2 separate regions of the Homo sapiens genome follow, and region 1 is linked to region 2. Evidence: fine-mapped expression QTL. A gene starts in region 2. The other region holds a variant in brackets. All regions are shown on one strand. Distances are between the middles of the regions. Region 1 overlaps LMF1 (lipase maturation factor 1). Region 2 holds the start of LMF1 (lipase maturation factor 1).

The links. PIP is the estimated chance that this variant, and not a neighbour inherited with it, causes the effect. A credible set is the group of variants that fine-mapping cannot tell apart.
Region 1: its variant is the best candidate, but not a certain one, in a credible set for the expression of LMF1 in whole blood (INTERVAL, PIP 0.60).

What each region holds. Positions count from the first base shown.
Region 1 is chr16:855,477-867,146 of GRCh38, forward strand. The region is part of intron 10 of LMF1 (lipase maturation factor 1); the gene reads right to left. Among named protein-coding and RNA genes, the nearest start is that of LMF1-AS1, 60 kb to the right of the region's middle. The variant G/A (reference allele first, on the strand shown) is at 5,148.
Region 2 is chr16:963,941-975,610 of GRCh38, forward strand. It overlaps LMF1 (lipase maturation factor 1), which reads right to left and starts at 7,044. Exons shown (of 11, transcript NM_022773.4): 1 at 6,848-7,044. The coding sequence starts at 7,040. It overlaps LOC124903620 (a long non-coding RNA gene), which reads left to right and starts at 10,129. Exons shown (of 2, transcript XR_007064935.1): 1 at 10,129-10,671; 2 at 11,401-11,670. RefSeq lists enhancers at 5,249-6,240, 8,223-9,213 and a silencer at 6,286-7,455.

The DNA of each region.
Region 1 (11,670 bases), 110 kb before region 2:
ACTGGGCATTTTCTCCTGGGGGTGGGACGAAGCCCCCTCATGTCCAGGGTTGCTCGGCTGCCCCGGAGGAGGAGGCGCCAGGAGGAATTGTCACCGTCACAAGCTCCCGGCCCTCCAGGCCCCTTCGCAGTTGTGCAGCAGGAGCGGAAGCTTCTCAGCCCACAGGGCGGCTGCTGCCTGGCTGGGATCCATGGCAGAGCTGGGCCCCAGCTGCCCGGTGGGTGTGATGGTGCAGCCATAACAGGACCCTCTCATGGCCCCTGGAATGAGCCCAGGCAGGTGCCAGAGGCTTCACACTGCACCAGGGCCCGGTAGCGACTGTCTGGGCTGCTGTCATTATTTGGGGCTTCTGGTGACCTGCACACAGCTGTGCTCTGGGGGCTGGGGGTGGAGACCTTGGGCCATGCCCCTTAGGCTGGCAGGGTGAGGGCCTCTGGGTCCACCCGGCTCCTCCTGGCTTTGAGTCTCTTTGGGTCTGGGTGTGTGATGGATGATGATTCTTCTCTCCCCAAGTCTGAATTACGCCAGGAAAACCGGGAAGACAGAGACCCTCTGGGTGGAGGAGGGTCCCTGAGGCGCCTGATGGGAGAGAGGGATCAGCAGCTCCAAGAGGAGTGGGGTCGGGCCTTTGGAAAACCTCCCGGGCAGCCAAGACTGAGGGTGATGCTGGCAGTTGGTGGCTCCCGTCCACTCCAGGAGGGCACTGCCCACTGCCCTGGGCCCCAGGGGTCTTTCCTGGACCCCTTGGGCCTGAGGCTGCCATGGTTTTCCTTGGCTATAAGGACGGCAGCGGCCAGCATGGGGACTGAGGCCAGGTGGTGCCAGGCAGAGAAGTCACACTGGACCCCGAGGTCGACCTCTGAGCAGCTCAGCAGCAGACTGAAGGGACGGGCTGGAATGCGGCCGTGAGGGCGCTGGGCTGTGCGGGCAGCATGGTCCCTGCACACTCTCCTGGGCCTTGCTAGGGCAATGCAGTCCCCAGGCAGGCCCACCCTCTCCCAAACCCTGCATTTAGTGAGGCCGGGAGGGTGGGGATCCTGGGAAGGCCTCCTGCAGTGGGATTGCCCATCTTTCCCAAATTCCTGCTCTTGCTTTCTGCTCCTTCCCAGGACAGGGTCAAGGCCTAGGGGGCCCAGGGCCTGGTCTCTGACATCAAGAGCTGGAACTGCAGTTTGGAAAGGGTTTTGGAAAGGGTCAGAACCCTCTGTGCCAACTGGCAGGTTGGTGGGAAGGGGCCCCAGGCCCCAGCGGCCTGAAGGGTTGCATTTCATTCCTGCAGACAAAGTACCCGAGAAGGCCATGGCACCGCCCCGGAGGGCTTGAGAGTGTTGAAAATAGGGGATCTCCCAGCCCTTTTGAAATAGACCCTACTGGCAACAGCTGGGCATCTTGCACAGCTATAGTAGGGATTGCAGCCAGGGCCTGACACTGAGGCCACAGACACGGGTCCCATCCACGCCCGGACCCCCGTGTCCTTCCACACCCTCCCCGACCTTCGGCCTCCTTGTGTGATTTCAAGAACGTATGATTTCAAGAATGAGTGGAACCCTGCGGCACGTACCCGCGGGGCAGGCGATTCTCACGCCAATTCTCAGGTTCCGCCAGGTCGTGTGATGGAGGCTTCCTTCCTCCTCGTCGCTGACCGGCGTCTGCGGCGTGAGTGCACCCTAGTTTGTGCGGTCGCTCTCTTGTGGAAGGACAGCTGAGCTCTTTGCAGTTTTTGTCTGTGACGGCTGCCGTAAACCTCTGCACGGGTTTCTGCGTGAACCTGGGTTTCAACTCTCTGGCTTAAACGTCCATGGAAGCAGCTGCTGAGTCCACTGCAACTTCGGGTGTCCTTTTTGAGGAGCCATTTTACCCTCCCAGCAACAGCCGAGTGACTCGATTTCTTGGTATCTTTGCCAGCATGTGGGGTTGTTGCTACTTTTATTCCAGCCGTTTTGATGGGTGTGCAGTGGTGTCACGGGACGGGTGTGAGTGGTGTCTCGGGACGGGTGTGAGTGGTGTCACCGGACGGGTGTGAGTGGTGTCTCGGGACGGGTGTGAGTGGTGTCACGGGACGGGTGTGAGTGGTGTCACGGGACGGGTGTGAGTGGTGTCTCGGGACGGGTGTGAGTGGTGTCACGGGACGGGTGTGAGTGATGTCACGGGACGGGTGTGAGTGGTGTCACGGGACGGGTGTGAGTGGTGTCACGGGACGGGTGTGAGTGGTGTCTCGGGACGGGTGTGCGTGGTGTCTCGGGACGGGTGTGCGTGGTGTCTCGGGACGGGTGTGCAGTGGTGTCTCGGGACGGGTGTGCGTGGTGTCTCGGGATGGGTGTGCGTGGTGTCTCGGGATGGGTGTGAGTGGTGTCTCGGGATGGGTGTGAGTGGTGTCTCGGGATGGGTGTGCGTGGTGTCACGGGATGGGTGTGCAGTGGTGTCTCGGGATGGGTGTGCGTGGTGTCTCGGGATGGGTGTGCGTGGTGTCTCGGGATGGGTGTGCGTGGTGTCTCGGGATGGGTGTGCGTGGTGTCTCGGGATGGGTGTGAGTGGTGTCTCGGGATGGGTGTGAGTGGTGTCTCGGGATGGGTGTGCAGTGGTGTCTCGGGATGGGTGTGAGTGGTGTCTCGGGATGGGTGTGAGTGGTGTCTCGGGATGGGTGTGAGTGGTGTCACGGGATGGGTGTGAGTGGTGTCTCGGGATGGGTGTGCGTGGTGTCACGGGATGGGTGTGAGTGGTGTCTCGGGATGGGTGTGCGTGGTGTCACGGGATGGGTGTGAGTGGTGTCACGGGATGGGTGTGCAGTGGTGTCTCGGGATGGGTGTGCAGTGGTGTCTCGGGATGGGTGTGCAGTGGTGTCTCGGGATGGGTGTGAGTGGTGTCTCGGGACGGGTGTGCAGTGGTGTCTCGGGACGGGTGTGAGTGGTGTCTCGGGACGGGTGTGAGTGGTGTCACGGGACGGGTGTGAGTGGTGTCACGGGACGGGTGTGAGTGGTGACTCGGGACGGGTGTGCAGTGGTGACTCGGGACGGGTGTGCGTGGTGTCTCGGGACGGGTGTGCAGTGGTGTCTCGGGACGGGTGTGCAGTGGTGTCTCGGGACGGGTGTGAGTGGTGTCTCGGGACGGGTGTGAGTGGTGTCTCGGGACGGGTGTGCAGTGGTGTCTCGGGACGGGTGTGCAGTGGTGTCTCGGGACGGGTGTGAGTGGTGTCACGGGACGGGTGTGAGTGGTGTCACGGGACGGGTGTGAGTGGTGTCTCGGGACGGGTGTGAGTGGTGTCTCGGGACGGGTGTGACTGGTGTCACGGGACGGGTGTGCAGTGGTGTCACGGGACGGGTGTGAGTGGTGTCTCGGGACGGGTGTGAGTGGTGTCACGGGACGGGTGTGAGTGGTGTCACGGGACGGGTGTGAGTGGTGTCTCGGGACGGGTGTGCAGTGGTGTCTCGGGACGGGTGTGCAGTGGTGTCACGGGACGGGTGTGCAGTGGTGTCACGGGACGGGTGTGCAGTGGTGTCACGGGACGGGTGTGCAGTGGTGTCACGGGACGCGTGTGCAGTGGTGTCACGGGACGGGTGTGAGTGATGTCACGGGACGGGTGTGAGTGGTGTCACGGGACGGGTGTGAGTGGTGTCTCGGGACGGGTGTGCAGTGATGTCTCGGGACGGGTGTGCACTGATGTCACGGGACGGGTGTGCAGTGGTGTCTCGGGACGGGTGTGAGTGGTGTCTCGGGACGGGTGTGAGTGGTGTCTCGGGACGGGTGTGCAGTGGTGTCACGGGACGGGTGTGCAGTGGTGTCACGGGACGGGTGTGAGTGGTGTCTCGGGACGGGTGTGAGTGGTGTCTCGGGACGGGTGTGCAGTGTTGTCACGGGACGGGTGTGCAGTGGTGTCTCGGGACGGGTGTGCAGTGGTGTCTCGGGATGGGTGTGCAGTGGTGTCTCGGGAGGGGTGTGCAGTGGTGTCTCGGGACGGGTGTGAGTGGTGTCACGGGACGGGTGTGAGTGGTGTCTCGGGACGGGTGTGAGTGGTGTCTCGGGACGGGTGTGCAGTGTTGTCACGGGACGGGTGTGAGTGGTGTCTCGGGACGGGTGTGCAGTGATGTCACGGGACGGGTGTGCAGTGGTGTCTCGGGACGGGTGTGCAGTGGTGTCTCGGGACGGGTGTGCAGTGGTGTCTCGGGACGGGTGTGCGTGGTGTCTCGGGACGGGTGTGCAGTGGTGTCTCGGGACGGGTGTGCAGTGGTGTCTCGGGACGGGTGTGCAGTGGTGTCTCGGGACGGGTGTGCAGTGGTGTCTCGGGATGGGTGTGAGTGGTGTCTCGGGATGGGTGTGCAGTGATGTCACGAGATGGGTGTGAGTGGTGTCTCGGGATGGGTGTGAGTGGTGTCACGGGATGGGTGTGCAGTGGTGTCTCGGGATGGGTGTGAGTGGTGTCTCGGGATGGGTGTGCAGTGGTGTCACGGGATCGGTGTGAGTGGTGTCACGGGATGGGTGTGCAGTGATGGTACCGGATGGGTGTGCAGTGGTGTTATGGTGGTTTTTGCTTCTCTAATGACAGGCATTTCTCCTGAGCTTATCTGTCATCTGTGCACCTTCTTTGGTGAAACGTCTCTGTGCTCATTTTCTAATAAGATTATTTTAGTATTAAGTTATGAAACTTCTTTACATATTCCAGATTTTAGACTATTGTCAGATACGTGACTTGCAAATATTTTCTGTCTGTAGCTTAAAAATTATCTTTGTTCTCTTAACAGGTCTTTTTATGGAGCAAATGCTTTTAATTTTAATGAATTTCAATTAATTTTTCCTTTCACAGATCATCTTTAAGTATAATGACTCTGCCTGGCCCTAGATCCCAAAGATTTTCTTCTATTTTTTCCTGAAAGTTTTTTTTTTTTTGAGATGGGCTCTCGCTCTGTTGCCCAGGCTGGAGTGTGGTGGTGTGATCTCGGCTCACTGCAACCTCTGCCTCCCAGGCTCAAGTGATCCTCCCACCTCAGCCTCCCGAGTAGCTGGGACTACAGGCATGTGCCACCAGGCCCTGCTAATTTTTTGTGTTTTTAGTAGAGACGGGGTTTTGCCACGTTGCTCAGGCTGGTCTCAAACTCCTGAGGTCAAGCAATCTGCCCACCTTGGCCTCCCAAAGTGCTGGGATTACAGATGTG[G/A]GCCACCATGCCTGGCCCTGAAAGTTGATTGTCTTATGCTTTACGTTGAAGTCCAGGATCCGTTTTGAGTTATTTTTGTGTGGGGTGAGACGTGGGTCGAAGATTTTGTTTTTGTCCATGGAATTGCTTTTGCGCTTTTGTAAAAAAAACTCATCCGGGCATGTTTGTTTGGGTCTCTTTGTGGGTTCTCTGTTGTGTTCCATGGAATTGCATGTCTGTCCCTCTGTCAATACTACACTGTGTTGACTACTGTAGTTCTGTGTCTTGAAACTGGGTAGATTGATTCGTTCCACCTTGTTCTCTTTCAAAATGGTTTTAGCTATTTTTGCTCCTTTACATTTCCATAGAAAACTTGGGATGACTTGTCCTTACCTATTAACACATCTTGCTGGGTTTTTTTTTTAATAGGAATTGCATTAAACCTGTCCATCAATCTGGAAGGACCTGTCATCTCCACGTTGTTGTATCTTCCAACCCACGAACGCGGCCGTGTCTCTAGGTGTGTGCTGACGTCTTTCAGCAGCATTGCTGAGTTTTCAGCATGTAAGTTCTGTGCATGTTTTGTCAGGTTTATACCTAAGTATTTCGCTTTTTGGAGTGGTTTTAAGTGGTTCTGCGTATTTAATTTAGGTGTCTGTGTGTTCATTGCTAGCGTACAGGAATACTATTGAATCATTTAGGTTGATCTTGTGTCTTCTGACTTTGCTGAACTCACTTATTAATTTTCTTTCTTTTTTTTTTTTTTTTTTTTTGAGATGGAGTTTCACTCTGTCGCCCAGGCTGGAGTGCAGTGACGCAATCTCAGCTCACTGTAACCTCTGCCTCCCCGGTACAAGCAATTCTCCTACCTCAGCCTCCTGAGTAGCTGGGATTACAGGCATGCGTCACCACACCTGGCTAATTTGAATTTTTTTTTAGTAGAGACAGGGTTTCTCTATGTTAGGCTGGTCTTGAACTCCCGACCTCAGGTGACTGGCCTGCCTTGGCCTCCCACAGTGCTGGGATTGCAGGTGTGAGCCGCTGCGCCCGGCCTCGCTTCATAATTCTAGGAGTGTTTTTGGTGGATACCTTGGGATTTCCTACAAAGACAACGGCGTCATCTGTAAACAGGCAGTTTCGTTTCTTCCTTTGTGATCGACACGCCTTTTCTTTCCTTGTCCTGCGTACTGCAGTGCCCAGCGCTTCCAGCACCATGCCGGATCCGATGGTTAGAGCAGACGTCCTTTCTTGTTCCGGATCTGAATGGTGAAGGGTGATTCCTTGCCCTCGAGGAGAATGCTGGCTGCAGGGCTTGTACAGATGCTCTTTATCCAGCGGAGGAAGTTCCTCTCCTTCTCTGTTTTTCCAAGTTTAAATCATGAATAGATGTTAAACTTGTCACGGGCCTTCCCAACACTGACAGATGTGATCGTGTGAGTTATCTTCGGTAGCTGGTAACGTGTGGATCTCATCGACTGATTCTCAAATACGGAACCAACCTTCATCCCTGGAATAATCCCTACTTGGTCATGGCATAGAATTCTTTGTTATATATTGGCAAATTCTATTTAGTAATTTTTTTTTTTTTTTTGAGGCAGAGTCTCACTCTGTTGCCGAGGCTGGAGTGCAGTGGCACCATCTCTGCTTACTGCAACCTCCACCTGCCGAGTAGTTGGGATTATAGGCAGCCACCACCATGCCCAGCTAATTTTTGTATTTTTAGCAAAGATGGGGTTTCACCATGTTGGCCAGGCTGGTCTTGAACTCCTGACCTCAGGTGATCTGCTCGCCTCGGCCTCCCAAAGTGTTGGGATTACAAGTGTGAGCCATTGTGCCCAGTCTATTTAGTAATATTTTGTTAAAAAATTTTGTGTCTATATCACTGAGGGATATTGGCTTGTAATATTATTTTCTTGTATTATCTTTGTGTGGTTTTGGTATCAGAGAACCACTAGCTTCATAAAATAAATTGAGGCTGGGTACAGTGGCTCATGCTTGTAATCCCAGCACTTTGGGAGGCTGAGGTGGGAGGACTGCCTGAGCCCAGGAGTTTGGGACCAGCCAGGGCACCATGGCAAGATCCTGTCTCTACAAAAACTAAAAAAATTAGTGAGGCGTGGTGGTGTGGGCCTGTGGTCCCAGCTACCTGGGAGGCTGAGGCGGGAGGATAATTTGAGCTGAGGAGGTCGAGGCTACAGTGAGCCATGTTTGTGCCATTGCACTCCAGCCTGGGTGACAGAGAGTGAGAACCTGTCTCAAAAAATAAATAAATAAATAAATAAAACGTAAATTGATGCTTTTCCTTCTCTTCTATTTTCTGGGAAATTAATCTTAGAATTCTCCAGTGAAACCATCTGAGCCTGGATATTTCTTTTTGGAGTTTAAAATGACAAATTCAATTTCTAGTTATAGGGCTATTTAAATTATTATTTCATACCAGGTGAGTTGTGGTAGTTTGTGTTTTTTGAGGAATTGGTCTATTTCATCCAAGTTATAAAATTTATGTATGTAGATGTTTGTCGTAGTCGCTTATTATCCTTTTCAGATTGCAGGGTCTGTAGTGATATCTCTTTTTCGTTTCGAGACAGAATCTTGTGGTGTCGCCCAGGCTGGAGTGCAGTGCTGCAGTCTCGGCTCGAGCAATTCTCGTGTTTCAGCCTCCCAAGTAGCTGGGACTACAGGCACCTGCCACCACGCCCAGCCAAGTTTTTGTATTTTTAGTAGAGACCGGGTTTCACCATGTTGGCCATGCTGGTCTTGAATTCCTGAGTTCAGGTGATCCACCCGCCTTGGCCTCCCAAAGTGCGGTGATTTCAGGCATGAGCCACCACACCCAACCTCTTTTTTCATCTTTGATATTGGCAATCGTATCTTCTCCTTTTGTTATTCTTACTAGAGGGTTGCTGATTTTATTGGTCTTTTAAAAGAACCATCTCTTTGTTTCAATAAGTTTCTCTATTGTTTGTTTTCAGTTTCATTTTCTGCTTTTTACTATTTTCTTACTGCTCCTTGCTTTAAATTTTTTCCTAGTTATTCATGTGATCTTGAGCTAGATTATTATTATTTTTTAAGCGATGGGGTCTTCCTGTGCTGCCTGATGCCAAGAGGCTGGCGTTAACGTCCTGGGTTCACACAGTCCTCCCACCTCAGCCTCCTGAGTAGCTGGGACTACAGGTGCTTCCACGGCATCCAGCTGATGTCAGATTATTGATTTGAGATCCTTCCTCTTTCTAAAATCTCAGGTCTCTTTTCTAATGTATGCATTTGGTGCTTTCTCTCTCATCACTAGTTTAACTACATCCCAGAAAATGTGACATGTCATTCAGTGCAATGGGTGGCATATTCTATAAACATCATTAGGCCCTGCCTGTCGATGATGGTGCTCCTTTATGTTCTTGCTGAATTTCCATCTAGTTATTCTACCTATTGTTGAAAGAAGGGTGTTGAAACATCCAGCCGTAATTGTTGATTTGTCGAGCTCTCCTTTCAGTTCTTTTTCTTCACATGTTTTGCAGATCTGTGCTTAGTGCACACACTTAGGATTGCTACATCTGTTTGGCAGGTTGATTCTTTTCTCATTGTCCGTCTTTGTCTCCAATAATTTTTGCACTGAGGTCTACTTTGAGGTTAATACAATGAATCCTTTATTTTCATTAATAGTCACATATTTTTTTCTATCCTTTTACTTTCAACCTGCCTATACAGAGGGTCCCTAACTTATGAGAGTTCCACTGACAGTTTTTCAGCTTTACAATGGTGCGAGGGATACGCACTCGGTAGGAACCGCACTGTGAGTGCCCAGACAACTATCCTGTTTTCACTTCCATACAGTATTCAGTAAATGACATATTCAACACTGTATTACAAAACAGGCCTGTGCTAGGTGATTTTGCCCAGTGTAGTCTAATGTAAGTGTTCTGAGCACGTTTAAGGTAGTAGGCTAGGCTGAGCTACGACGGATGTTTGGTAGGTGTATTAAACTCATTTTTGACTTACATTTTCAACTTATGCTGCATTTATCAGGGCATAAGCTCATTATGCATATATTTAAGTTACTATCTTTTTTTTTTTTTTTTGAGATAGGGTCTTGTGTCGCACAGGCTGGAGTGCAGTGGCATGTCTTGGGTCACTGTAGCCTCAGCTTCCCGAGTAGCTGGGATTACAGGCATGCACCACCATGCCTGGCTAATTGTTGTATTTTTAGTAAAGAGGGTTTTGCCATGATGGCCAGGCTGATTTTGAACTCCTGACTTCAAGTGATACACCTGCCTCAGCTCCCAAAGTGCTGACATTACAGGAGTGAGCCACTGCACCTGGCCAATCTTTATCTCTTAATTGGCTTATTTAGACCATTTACATTGAATATACAGTCGGTCATTTTACTTCTTCCCATCTGTTCTGTTTCTGATTTCTTTGTTTTTCCCAACCTGCTTTCCTATGGGTTATGTAAGTGTTTTAGAATTCCATTTTGATTTGTCAATAGTGTGTTCCAATGTATCTCTTAGTATAGGTTGTTTTTTACTGGCTGTTCTTGGCACGTAACTTACAGTCTACTGATGTCATTTTACCACTTCAAGTTAAGCATAGAAACCTCACCTCTATGTCCATTTGCCCTCATCCATTTATAGTTATCTTAACTACTTCCTCTACATAAACTTTGAACTACTTCAGACAGTTTTATAGCCTTTGCTTAACCATCCAACATGATTGGAACTCAAGAGAAGGAACGTCTATTGTATTTACCCATGTCTTTTCTTTTTTCTTTTGAGATTGAGTCTCGCTCTGTTGCCCAGGCTGGAGGGCAACGGTGTGATCTCGGCTCACTGCAACCTCTGCCTCCCAGGTTCAAGCAATTCTCCTGCTCAGCTTCCTGAGTAGCTGGGATTACAGGCGTGTGGCACCATACTCGCTCATTTTTTATTTTTGTAGAGACGAGACTTCACCATGTTGGCCAGGCTGGCAATGTTTTATTATCTCTGGTTTTTAGAAATTTGACTTTGATGTGTTTAGGTTTGAATTTCTTTGGGTTTTTCCTATTTAGGGTTTGCTCAGTTTATTGACTCGGTAGGTTTGTCCGTTTTGCCAAATTTGGGAAGTTTTCAGTTCTTATTTCTCCAAGTACATTTTCAGCCCTAAAGCTCACTCTGTCTTCCTCCTAGGACTCTGATGACATGAATTCTGGATCTTCTGTTACAGTCTCAGTCCCACAGATCCCTGGGGCTCTTGCTGTTTTTCCCCGTCTATGTCCTCTCACTTGTTCCCACTGGGTACTTTCTATGTTTAAGTTTATTGATTCTTTCCTCTGTCCTCACCATTCAGATGTCGAGTGTTTTGTGTCAGTTATATTTTTCACTTCTAAACTTTTCATTTGGTTCTTTAAAAAACCGATTTCTTTGCTGAGGCTGTATTTTTTATCAGTTGTGTTCATAATTACTGCATGCGTTTTCGACGGCTGCATTCACATCTCTGTGAAGTCACTCTAATACCTCCCTCATCTTGGTGCTATCATCTGTCGACTGTCCTTTTTCACCAATGTCTTCCTGTTTCCTGCTGTGACAAGTAATTTTTCCACTGAAAACTGAACATTTTGTGTATTAGGAGATTTTGGATCTTATTTAAACCTTCTGCTTTAGATGACTTCTTCTGACCTCATGCTGGTAGAGACAGGGGTATTACCTTGCTCCTGCCAGGTTGGGGTAGAACTCCAGTGGACGCATTGGGAGTATTCCTTGTTGTTTCTGGGTAGGGTGGGAGTCGTGGCTCTGCACTAGGCCTCCATGACACTATGGCGGGGGTGGCCTAGTCATTGCTGGCTGGGTGGTGGTGAAGGTCCTGACTTTCTGGTAGCTATTACGTAATACCACTCTGGAGGGGAGGAGCCCTTCAGTACTGCCAGGGGTTGGGGGAGTCCAGGCTCCTCGTGTGGTCTCCACTGATACCACAGAAGCGGGGGATCCTTCCTGCCCACTTGGATGAAAATCTCAGCTTCCTATTTGGCCTCCTCTGGTAGCATCCCAGTGAGCCGTTTGGAGGAGAGTCCAGGCTCCCTACTCCATACCTTGCTGGTGTGGGTGGGGCCATGGTTTTTTCTGTGGTGTTGCCTGGAGTGGTGATTATTTTATGTAAATTTCCTGTCTTGCTAGGCTGCTCTTTTCTGGCCCTTTAGTCAGAGAGAGCAGATTTTTGTTGAGGTGTTTCTTGTCTGCATCTGCTGGCATTACTGGGTTTCCAGTTTCCTCACCCCCAAGTCTAGAAAATGAGGCCGAAAGCAAGCCTAGGCGATCACCACCATTTTGGGGCTGTGGCTCCGTCCCGAGGGCCCTGCTGGTGGCTCTCTTCTCTCACCTTCGGTCTTCCTGTTTTATGTATAACGTCCAGGGATCTTGGTTGCACTTAGTGGGAGGAACAGGGGTAAGTGTCTGTTCCATCTTCCAGTTTTAAAGTCGATGATGAACTCAATGCAGGCCCACGGTTAGCCACAGCCTGTCATGGTACCACCTGCTCCAGCTGCCAAACATGTGTATCATGGAGACGGGAGAGATGT
Region 2 (11,670 bases):
AAAACTAACCAAGCAGTCAAGCTTCGGAAGGCCCCGTCACTACCCCACACGGGAGGCAGCAGAGCCATGGCGGCCACCCGCCTCTCACAGGGACCCAGAGCCTGACCTGGGAGCTGCAACGAGGAAATACCGAGGAAATACCGTGTCGCCCGAGCAGCCAACAGCAGGCATGGCCGATAAATACTTTGTTTCAGAATCAGAAAGAAATAGCTGGGCGTGGCAGCCTGTGCCCGTAGCCCCAGCTACTCGGGAGGCTGAGGCAGGAGAATCTCTTGAAATCGGAAGGCGGAGGTTGTAGTGAGAGGAGATTGCACCACTGCACTGCAGCCTGGGCGAAAAAGTGAAACTCTGTCTCAAAAAAAAAAAAAAAAAAAGAATCAGAAAAAAAAAATCAGCTTTCTCTTTTCTCCTTTCAGATAAATTGTTGTAAGATTAAAACAGTCATCCCAGAAATGCCGTTCTCTGTTGATGGTTCTTACTGGCCGTGGTTAAATTCTGGGCCTCAGCACAGTGACCTCAAGTATTTTTTCTTTAAGGGATGTGCTGCAGAGCTCCGAAGTAGGGCAGTGCTGTTTGCTTTTTAAACAAGCAAGTATTTTATAGAAGAACTTGTAAAACCAAGTGGTGCATTTCATTAGAACTCAAGTGGCCCGGAGAAAAGAAAAAGAACTCATTTCCCATGAGCTCTTAGAGCCACTGAAAGCTCAGAACAAAACCAACTGAGCAGGGTTTCAAGTATTCTTTTTGGTTTCATTTTCTCCTCAAATTTTCTGAAGAACAGCTGAGAGTTTAGCAAATACGGGTGCAAACGATTCTGCCTGCCACGTCAACCCTGCCTCGGGTGTCATCTGACGAGGATGCCAAGCTACAAGGGCTGCGGTGAGACTCAGAGACACGCTACCAATGGCACCGCGGCCCCACCTCGCCGAAGCAGCTGCCGGGGAGACGCGATAAAACTGCCCCACGCGGAAAAGAAGGAAGGGCGGTGAGCAGGCGCACAGAACAGACGCCACAGTGCGGCACGCATGCCTCCACGCCTAAAGGACAAAACTAGCATGGAGATCCCCTAGAGGTCGGATTTTCAACATAATCTCAGTGAGCCCAGGACTCCAATGTGACAATGTGGAACTGGAAAGACGAGCAAGAAAAGCCCCTCCGTTCCCGCCAGCGTTGGGCATTCCTTCTGCAGTCCAGGCTGTCCCCGTCACTCGGGATCACAGCCAAGCGGTGGGTTCTGTGTGGTGCTTGGCTCCTAGGGCCTCGCGGAAGCCATGTTCTTCTCCATTCAGCTTCATGGAGAGACTTTCCCAGGTTTCAGCCCACGCTACGAAGCTAGACAGGAGAGTGGCCCCCACCCGCCCTGTTTGGAACCCAGCTGGGGCATGCGGTGTTTGGAACACATGGGCAGATTGGGGAGAGGCCAGAAGAGCCTCATCCAGAGCCAAGGACAAGCCTTGAGGCTGAAGAGCTCACCAAGGCCACTACAAGAGAGCAAAAAAAAGAGCCTCAGAGACTCCTCGATAAATAACCAGAACAGAGAGCAAAGGTGGAGAGCAGGAGGGCAAGGCACTGAGACTTTAGAAGCTTCCAGGGAGAAGAAGAGTCAGATGCTTGAAGATGCCTCCTCAATGCTGCAAAGCTCTGAGGGAAAGTGGCTTTGATGGAGAATTAGAGATCCGGGCAAGTTGGTCCTTTCTGGAAAAGCTGCTTGGGGATACACTCCAGCAAAAAGAGAATCCACCAGCAAACAGGAAGGCATGAGCAGCCCAGGAAGTATGAACACAACCAAGGGAGGGCTGTGGCAGTATCTGTCCTGCTGGGCCGCACCTCGGGGCTGGAGGTGGGTAGAGGGGAAAGAAGGGGTAATGGCTGGAAAAGTGTCCCATGCTGACACTAAGCCCTGGTAGAGACCACCTGCTACGGGTCAGCACATTTCACTGAGCAGGAGATGCCCCTAGAAGACAAGGGATAGAGGTATAAAGAAAGTCCTCTCCCTGACTGCAAGGAGCTAGAGGGGAGACAGGCACAAGAACAACACTGGAATGGGGACAATATCAGCCGCAAAGGAAGCAGAGAGCAGGGCTCCGGTGGTCAGCCCTGGGTGGGGTCAGGAGTCCACGAGTGATGAGGGCTAAGTCTGAAGGCCAGAAGGGTGTCGGCAGCCACGGAGAGAACAAGTACAGTTAACCCTGGGAAGGCAGAGGCCAGGTGGTCTCAGGACCACGGTCAGGAAGAGATGCCTCACGTGGCGGGGACACAGCGGGAGCAGTTCAGGCACCACGGCTCGTCCACTGGGGCCCCAGCCTCTCACTGCAAGCAGTGCAGGTGGACATCTGCCCCAGAGGCAGCAGGGAGCGTGTGTCCCAAAGCCCCCAGCACTCATGCCCTGTGCAGGCGCCGAGCAGCCGGCCCTGGCCGGGGCGGTTCCCTCCTAGGCCTGTCCAGGACTCGGCCCCCACAAACACATGGACCGACAGACGAAATCCCTCAGGAGTGTCTCTGCGCCGACGCCATGGCACCCACGAAAAGTGCCACACATAAAGTCAGTCTGCAAATGCCAACGTTACCCAGTCTTCATGTCACATTTCACCTACAGATCCCTTCCGAATTGTAACAATATCTCATAAATGTTTGAGCTTCAAAGGAAAGGTCCTTTCCGACGTTCAGATATATATACTCCGTGGCTGCCTGCGAGCCGTCTCCCAGGCGGGTGTGTCCTTGGTCCGCCTTCTGGGAAGTGTGCACAGGCAAGGAATCCCATGTCAGCCTCAGGACGGCCCAGCGGTCACTCTCACCTCATCAGTGACAGGAAGGTCTTGATGAGCAACTTGGCCAAGGCCACACAGCTAAGGTGTGGCCCACCAACCCTGAGCCCCACTACTTCCACCTGTCACAGCTTCCAGAAAGTTCTCTGCAGTGAACTGCTATCAACCCAATTCTGACCAACTGTAATTACACTGTTTCCAGATAACACCTTAATTCTGAGGCAGTTAAAATGCATTGTGTACATATACTATGTGACTCTCATCAATAGCAAACCAACGTCAGTTCAGTCCAGGAGAACCCACCCAGGGTGGGCAGCTCTAGCCTAGGGTGTCTTCAGTAGCACCTGCAAGGCTGTCCTTCCCCCGTCTTGTCAGGGAATCCAGCTCTACCACTGGCGCTGTAACAGACACAGGGCTGCTGGAAATTCCAGGAGTCCAGCCCCAGCTGCCTGTGGCCGCCCATGGACGGACCTGGCCAGGCCCCCTGGGAGGGGGATTTCAAAGCATCAAGGAGCCGGCCTGGCTGACGAGGCTCCAGACCAGCTGTTTGCCACACACGCCCCCGTACTGCAGGGTTGACCAGTGAGGGCCTCAATCTTCCGCAGGGAACGCCGGGCCACAACGTCGACGCACGACCCTGGGGGTTCCTGCCATAAAACAGTGAGGGATTCTGGCCAGGCTGCTCTGCCCTCTGTTCCGGTGAGCCTGGGCATGGTGCCCACTCTTGGGTTCGGTTTCCTTATTGCGCACACAGACAGCAGCAGGCCTGACTGCAGGAGGCACCGGCACCCATGGGCGGCCGGCACTGCCCCTACACACCAAGAACATGGCACCCAGGTCCCGCTGCTTAGGCCGGAAACTCCTGTCACATAAGCTTTTACTCGTCCAGATTTCAGCCATTCCTGGGAGTGACATCTGTGCTGAGGGGAAGCTCAGTGTCAGTGTCAGGCATCCCCGACCACCTCGGGCAGCCTCGGTCCTCCCAGGAGCCGTCACGGCCCGAGAACGCCGCTGCCCAGATGTGAACCGGGTGTCCAGGATACGCAGGCTGCACAGTGGCGTGAATGAAGGGCAGGGCTGAACTCCAGGGCCTACGGACAATCGCTGCACAGCCGGGCCAGTGGCTGACCCTGCTTCCTCGCTGTCCACTGGGGGTAGTGGCGTTGTCACCAGGAGGTCAGCACCGGGCAGGGTGCTACTTCAGCATCTGCTCAACGCAGTAATCACACTAGGGACCCGAGTCCACACGTCAGGAAGACAGGTGTGTCTTCAACTCTGAGCCCTGTGAAAATGCCGCTTTCCGCTAACACACTCCGGCTCCCACAGCACAGCAGGGCATGCCCGACACCCCAGGACGCCCGCGGTATGCACGTCTGTGTGCAGTGAGCACACCCCTAGCACCTACACACCTCGGTGGCAGCACATGGAAACGCCCAGGCCCGCGGTGGGAAGGAGCCAGCCCCAGGACGGATGCAAAGTCAGGTTGAATGCAGAGGCCTGTCGCTGGCAGCCGGCCTCTCCAGGTCTGGCTTCGAAGCTTCCCCGACAGGGCAGGCGTTTCTGTGTTCTCCTGATCTGTACATCTTTACTACATGTCTGCTGAGACAATCTGCCTAAGGGTAAGCCTCCCTCAGTTCAATGTCTTTTAACAAGGGGAGTTTCCACAGAATACATTTGGTTATGTGTTTAATTACAAGTGTTTCAATAGCTATAAACATTGTAAAATTCAGTATCAAGTGAAATATTTGGAGAGCCCCTATGGCAACTTGGAAAAACCCTGGGATTCTGAGGAACAGGGAGTAGCGCACAGTCCCAGTAAAATCCAGAACTTTCTAGAAGGAGATAAATGCAGGATGACTGCCTGCTTGCCCTGGGCCAGCTCAGCCAGAAAACCATGTCCCTGAAAGATGGGAAACTGGTTCCTTGATACAGCAGAAAAACACTGATTCTACCCCAAATGTACTCACAAGACAGAAGAACGTGCATATGTCAAGGAGAAATGTTCAATGCTGGGCACCAGGCTTAAAATATCCGCTTGACCCAGTGGCTTAAAAGCAGTTCCTTCTGAATTGAACAGAGAATCCCTGCGGAGATCAAAGGAGCCTCAGCTCGTTTGAAAGAGTCTGAGCTGGTTTTATGAAGCTGTGCTCCGGAGGCAAGGCCGCTGGGACTTCCTGCTGTATCTCGGGCTCCCCTGTGGAAGGCCTATTAGAGCCTCACAGCTTCACTTTATCTCTACTTCATCGTTTGCTAAGTGACAGCACCAACATTTAAAATGACTGTTTAATACTGTGGAGGGAAAAGCAACCTGGGAAGAACTACTTTTTAAAATAATTGCAGGCCGGGCATAGTGGCTCACGCTTGTAATCCCAGCACTTTGGGAGGCCCTGAGGTCAGAAGTTCGAGACCAGCCTGGCCAACATGGTGAAACCCTGTCTCTACTAAAAATATTTTTAAAAATTAGTCAGGCATGGTGGTGCGTGCCTATAATCCCAGCTACTCGGAAGGCTGAGGCAGGAGAATCGCTTGAACCCAGGAGACGGAGGTTGCAGTGGGCCGACATGGTGCCGTTGCGCTCCAGCCTGGGCAACAGAGTGAGACTCCGTCTCGAAAAAAATAAATAAATAAAATAAAATAGTTGCTTTAAAGAAAGAGAGAGAGAGACACAGACCCAGTTGAAGCCGATACTGCAATCCCACAGGAAACCTTGTAGTGATGAGCGCGTCTCATCACTTTGCACCAGGAGGTGGAAAGTATCACACAAATGTCACACAAAACGTCGAACTGAGCATCACTCCAGCACAACCAGGCTACCAAACTTCCCGCGACGTGTGTGGCACAAAGGCTGTGCAAAGAAGAACTTCTGCAACCTGACCCTTTCCTTCCACACGTGAGGGAAGCAGACGATGGAAGGAAAGGGAGACGTCCAATGCCCACGGCCTACAACCAACGCGTGGGCAACGCCCGGGGCCAGCAGCTCCGGAGCCCTCTGGGACGGTGACTGCCCACGCGCCCCGCTGGCTGCATCTCGGCCTGGCAGGCTCCCCTCACTTCCATACTCATTTGAGAGCCTCACTTGAGGTTCGTAGCTCCTGACACGTTGGGCTTATGAAACATGTATCCGTGTGATCACATGTCACCGTGATCACAGAACCGTTCTCTTCCAAACCAGTTCTGGGTTGTAGGGACTGGGGAGAGAGGGAGTTGGAATCGCCAGCTGCCCCTGGCCAGGGGATCCAGAGGTTTTGAGCGTGAACTGACTTTTCTCAGAGCTCTGCTCTGTAGGCTGCGCACGCGGGCCCCGCACAGCTGTGGGGTGAAGGGTCTCCGCCAGTGGACCCGGCCAACCACATCCCACAGTGAGGCGCAGGCTTCACTTGCAGATGAGGTTCCGGAGCTGCCCCCAGACCTCCGCTGGGAATCTTCCCGAACGCAGACTGAGCTAGTCGAGAACACTAAAGGAGAAACTCCAGTCTGGCCACCAGCCAGTCACCTTCCCTCAGCCCCTGGGAGACGCGAAGGAGGCTCCCGGGCCGGCTCCTCGGATTTTGGCAGGGGCCGCACGCGGCAGGGATGTGGCGTGCGGGCGTCCAGTTACAGTGGGAACCTTCACCGTCAGCACAGCGCTGTGTCGGGGACAGCAGGAGCGCCTCGCCTCTCCAGGCCGCCCCCCGCCCCGCAGCCAGGACGCAGACCCCCGACCTGCGCACGGACGGGTGACCCTCCACCTGCCCAGCTCTCCTGGGAACTCCTGGGCCAGGGCCCGGGCCGGCCCCGCCTCGCATAGCCCCGAGCCGGTCCTGGCAGGCGCGGCCGTGCAACTTCGGGGCTGCGGGTGGAACCGGGAGCCCAGGAGCCCAGGCCGGAGGCTCGAGGCGGCGACAGGGGTAGGGCCGGGTGCGCTGTCGCCAGCAAGCCTTGTCCTGCCCTGCCCGCCCCGCCTTGCCCGGGCCCCAGCAGGAAGGAGGGCTGCGTGGGGGCGCCGCGGCCGCGAGACCGCGCGGAGGAGTCTCGAGGGAGGGCGGGGGTCGTGGTGCGCGGAGGTGACACTGGCGGATGTCCCGGGCCCGCCCGGCACTCACAGTACACGAAGGCTAGGGCCTTCAGGAGCACGATCCGGGTCAGCCAGAAGGTGCCCGTGTGGAGATGGGCCGGAGAGCCTGCGGGGCCACGCCCCGGCGCGGGCGGCGACTCAGGCTCCGGATCCGAGTACCCAGTCTTCCGCCTCCTCAGCGACTCCGCGGGCGCCGCCATTGTTGGGCTGTCAGGGCGCATGTGCGGGGAGGGCGCACTCCCGGAGGCCCCGCCCATTCTCGGAGGCCCCGCCCATTCTCGGAGGCCCCGCCTCTCCCTGGCCGGCCCTGCCCACGGCCGAAGGCCCCACCCACACCCCGGGAGGCCCCGCTCACAGTCCCGGAGGCACCGCCCCCTCCAGCCGGCCCCGCCCACGCGCGGGAGCGGGTGCCCGGAGCCTGCCTCCTTCGCAGTTCTCGCTGGGCGCTGCTGCGGGTAGGGCGCGGGGCCGGGTACCTGGGAGGTGGTGCGCGTCGCCCGACCCGAGCTCACTGGGGCAGGCACGCGTGCCTTCCGTCAGTCCGAGTTGCAGAGGCCAGGTGCCCTCCCCCAGCCAGGCGCCTTCCCAGCTGTGGTCCTGGGGAAGGTGGGCTGCACAGGCCCTGGCGGTGCTACCACTGCGTGCCCCTGCCTCACAGCTGACACTCACTCTCTGCGGAGGAGGGTGCTAGGGCGATCGTCGCAGCCAGCAAGGGACAGAGTAGGCAGGGCTGTGCCTGGAATGCTCGGGGGACCCTCCCCTTTCTCCCAGCCTGAGCACCCTTCCGCCTTTGCACAACCCAGCTCCTGCCTGCCCTTGGGACTGGACTTCAAGCTGTGGGGGAAGAGGGGGACTCAGGACTCAGGAGGGAAGGGCTAACTGCCCAATGCCCCAAACAGAACATGAAGGAGGACGCCAGCACTCTACACTCTGATGACTGGAGCGGGGTTCTGGAGGCTGATGTGAAGCGGGTGCTAGGAAGGGCTGGGGTCACAGGCATTCCTTAGAGGAAAGAAAGGGCGTGAGGCTAGAGTAGGCATTGGAGACCTAGGGGTTAGTGAATAAACTGTGGGGCACTTAGGTGGAAGTGCAGATTTCTCCTTATTCATTTGTCAGCACTCTTTACGTATGAAAAATCCTGTTCTTTTGTGTATATTGGAAATATTTGTCCTGGTTTTTTGTTTTTGTTTTCATGTATTCTTCTCTTTTGCCTCTCTAGCTTTCCTAGTGTTTTGGCGTATCAATTATCGCCACTGGGTTGGTCAAATGACCCGTCTTTATTGCTTGTTTAATTACCTGTTTAATTATATCTTCACCACCTGCAGTGTGAGCCTTGTGTGGGCAGGGACTGACTGTGGACATCGGGCCCCCAAATCCAGGCCTGACCAGCAGTGGCCCGAGCTTCCTCTCAGCCTCCACCTTCCCTGTGTTGCTGGGGCCGTAGCATACGTGTACATCTTATGGTTTAATTCATTTTTAGTTTCCATTTCTTTTCTATGAAACCCCCCTTAGGAGCCCAGCTGTGAAATGGGACCCTGTTAAAGATGTTGCAACGGGTACGAACACACAAACATCCTCCGCATGCTGGCCCAGCCTCCGGGAGCGTGGTGTGTGCCTGAGGGCTCGGAGCCTTGGGGATCGCAGGAGGCATCGGCCCTGGCTGGCGCCCGGCACCCAAGTCCCTCCACAGAGCCCACGACCCGTACCTCTCCTCGTGACCTGGGGGCCAGCTTAGGAAGGGCCGGCACAGCCCACACTGTTCCCCTCATCTGTGGGGAACAGGGAGCCCCACACCCTGGGACCACGCCTGCAGAGCGGGCCCTGTCTGGGTGCCAGGCCTGCTAGGGGACGGACGGCGAGAGGGACTGCCCTGCGTCAGGTGTGGCCCTGCGCTGTCCTCAGGTGGGGCTGCCCTCACAAGGAGGCTTTGTGCACAGCTTCCCCTCGCTGGGCCGAGCTGCTCTCCCCGCGAAGGGCACAATGGGGCATTGTGCAGAGCAGAAAAGGGCCTCTTGTTCCAGCTTCCAGCGCTCCGGGCTCCGGCTCTGCATTTGCCCAGGGTGGGAGCAGTCAGCGGAAGGGTCTGCTGGGAGCTCCTGTTCTCTCTGAGCTCAAGTTTCCCTCAGGGTCTGCTCTCTTGAGACGCTGACCGCAGGGGTCCCATCCACTGCCCAGAATGGCTCCAGAGCAGGTCACCGGGGGCAGGGCTTGGGCCGGGGAGAGGTGGACCAGCAGCTCTGGTCGTGCCCATTTCAGCCTGAATTTAATCAAAAGTGCACTGGGTTATGATTCAGCCATCAAAAAGAATCCAGGAGCCGGGCGCCTGTCATCCCAGCACTTTGGGAGGCCGAGGCAGGTGGATCACCTGAGGTCAGGAGTTCAAGACCAGCCTGGCCAACATGGTGAAACCCCGCCTCTACTAAAAATACAAAAAAATTAGCCAGGTGTGGTGGCGGGCACCTGTAATCCCAGCTACTCGGGAGACTGTGACAGGAGAATCGCTTGAACCCGGGAGGTGGAGGTTGCAGTGAGCCTAGATCGCGCCACTGCACTCCAGCCTGGGCCACAGAGCGAGACTCTGTCTCACTAAAATAAAACATAAAATAAAAAGGAATCCAGTTCTGACACGTGCTACAACACAGATGAACCTCAGAACATCAAGCTCAGTGGGACAGGACAGACGCGGAGGTCATGAGTTGCGTGAGCCCATTTACATGAAATGTCCGGGGTGGGCAAAGCCACGGGGAAAGGAGGGAGCTCTGTGGTCCAGGTCTGGGGACGGGGAGTGGGGAGCCAGTGGTCCGGGGGTAGGACGTTTTCTTTTGGGCTGATGAGAATCTTCTGGAACTAGGCGATGGCTGCCCAGCACTGTGAGGTGCTAAACACCGAGTCGTTCACTGGCAAATGGCTTATTTCATGCTATGTGAATTTCGCCTCGAATTTTAGAAAAGTAAAATGAGGCCGGGCACCGGGGCTCACGCCTGTAATCCCAGCACTTTGGGAGGCCGAGGCGGGTGGATCACGAGGTCAGGAGATCGAGACCATCCTGGCTAACACGGTGAAACCCCGTCTCTACTAAAAATACAACAACAACAACAAAATTAGCCGGGCATGGTGGCGGGCGCCTGTAGTCCCAGCTACTCGGGAGGCTGAGGCAGGAGAATGACGTGAACGCGGGGGCTGGAGCTTGCAGTGAGCCGAGATCGTGCCACTGCCCTCCAGCCTGGGCGACAGAGCGAGACTCTGTCTCAAAAAAAAAAAAAAAAAGTAAAATGAAAACAAAAGACAACAGACAGCCCTGCACTGGTGTTTCAGAATCGCCCGGAAGGCGCTGTCACCTGTCGGAATACATCATGTCATTTACGCTCACCTTACTTCTTTGTCTATATTAAGGCGCATCTAGCAGTTTAAAAATAACATTTAGATACAGGTGTGTCTTATTCTCTAAGAAGGCACTTCACTTAAAAACAGGCTTCTCTGCAAACCCAGAGTGAGCTGCAGCGGCCGGGAGATCGGCCAGGTGTGGTCCTTTCACCCTGCAGCTCAGTGTCCTGTGACCACAGGCACGTGGGCCCTGCCCTGAGCGCCTCACACCAACCCGAGGCGGGAGGAGGAGGAGGGCGTCCTGAGAGTGCCCTGTCAAGCAAAAACTCTAAGAGAAAAAGCCAGGCTGACCCAGGAGAGGCCTGAGGGAGGGGAGTGGAGATGAGGCTCGGCCACCCCAGGGCTGCCCGGTGCTGGGGGAGAAGACGCTGAGAAGAGGAGGAGAATGGGGAGGAAGGGACGGACACCCCAAGAGCACGCAGGCTGAAGACTGGGCTGCCTCCCCGGAGACCGACCAGCCTGCCCTAGGTGGGACCCTGTCCCCGCCGTCCCGGCCTGCGCCAGCACAGCCCCCAGGACCCAGGCACACACAAGCCCGTGGCTGGCCACGCTCCCAGCAGCTGCGGGCCGGCTTCAGGGAGGAATGAGCCCCTGTCGGCACCTCGTCCAGCTGTCCCCCAGCACCCCGGCCTGGCAGCTCCCGCCTCCTCGGGGCCATTGTCCCTGGCATGCGGTGGCAGCTGTCTCTGGCACCCGCAGGAAGCCAGTGTGGGCCCGAAGATAATCGTGCACCCTTCATTTACCCCAATTTTTCATGTCCTGAAGTCTGGGTATGGAAGGGGGGCCCAGGACCCGTGGATGCTAACATCTGTTGCCTCCTCCTGGAAGGGTGGTCAGTTTGGGCAGATCCTGCTGTGACTGTCCAGCGGCCAACCCCCCCACCCCCCACGTGAGGCTGGCAGGTGCGGGTGGGGGCTGAGAGAGCAGGTGTTGTGCCATTTGCTGGTTGTCCTGGGACGATGACTCACAGACGGCTGTTCTGCTTGGCTCACCCTGTCCTCTCCCTGCACCCTCGGCTACAGGTCACGAGTGTTCCCACCCCTGCACCCCAGAAGGAGATGCGGCTCCATGTGACCCTGCAAGCTGGCAAGCCATGGTTTCTAGACAGTGGAAAGCACAGCTCCCAATGTGGTGGTGTTCTCCGGTTGCAGGGCCCTATGTTAGGAAACGAATGTGTAATTTTTTTTTTTTCTCTAGGAATCATATTCTGCACTGGAAGAAGCCTTGAGAGTTGCCTGGCCCAGAGGTCACAAACCAGAGCCCTGCGGGCTGAGCTCTACCCACAGTGCAGTTATCAGTCACCGTGTAGCGGTCACCGACGGCCACATTAATGCTGCGTAACAAACAGCCTCAGAGCCCACCGTTGTGTGTCGCCAGGCGGTGCTGTCCATGCCCAGGCCCCAAGAAAGGCAGGGGAAAGGCTGAGCTGGGCCTGTGCCCTCTGTCCCTTCCTATGAGCCTCTAGAG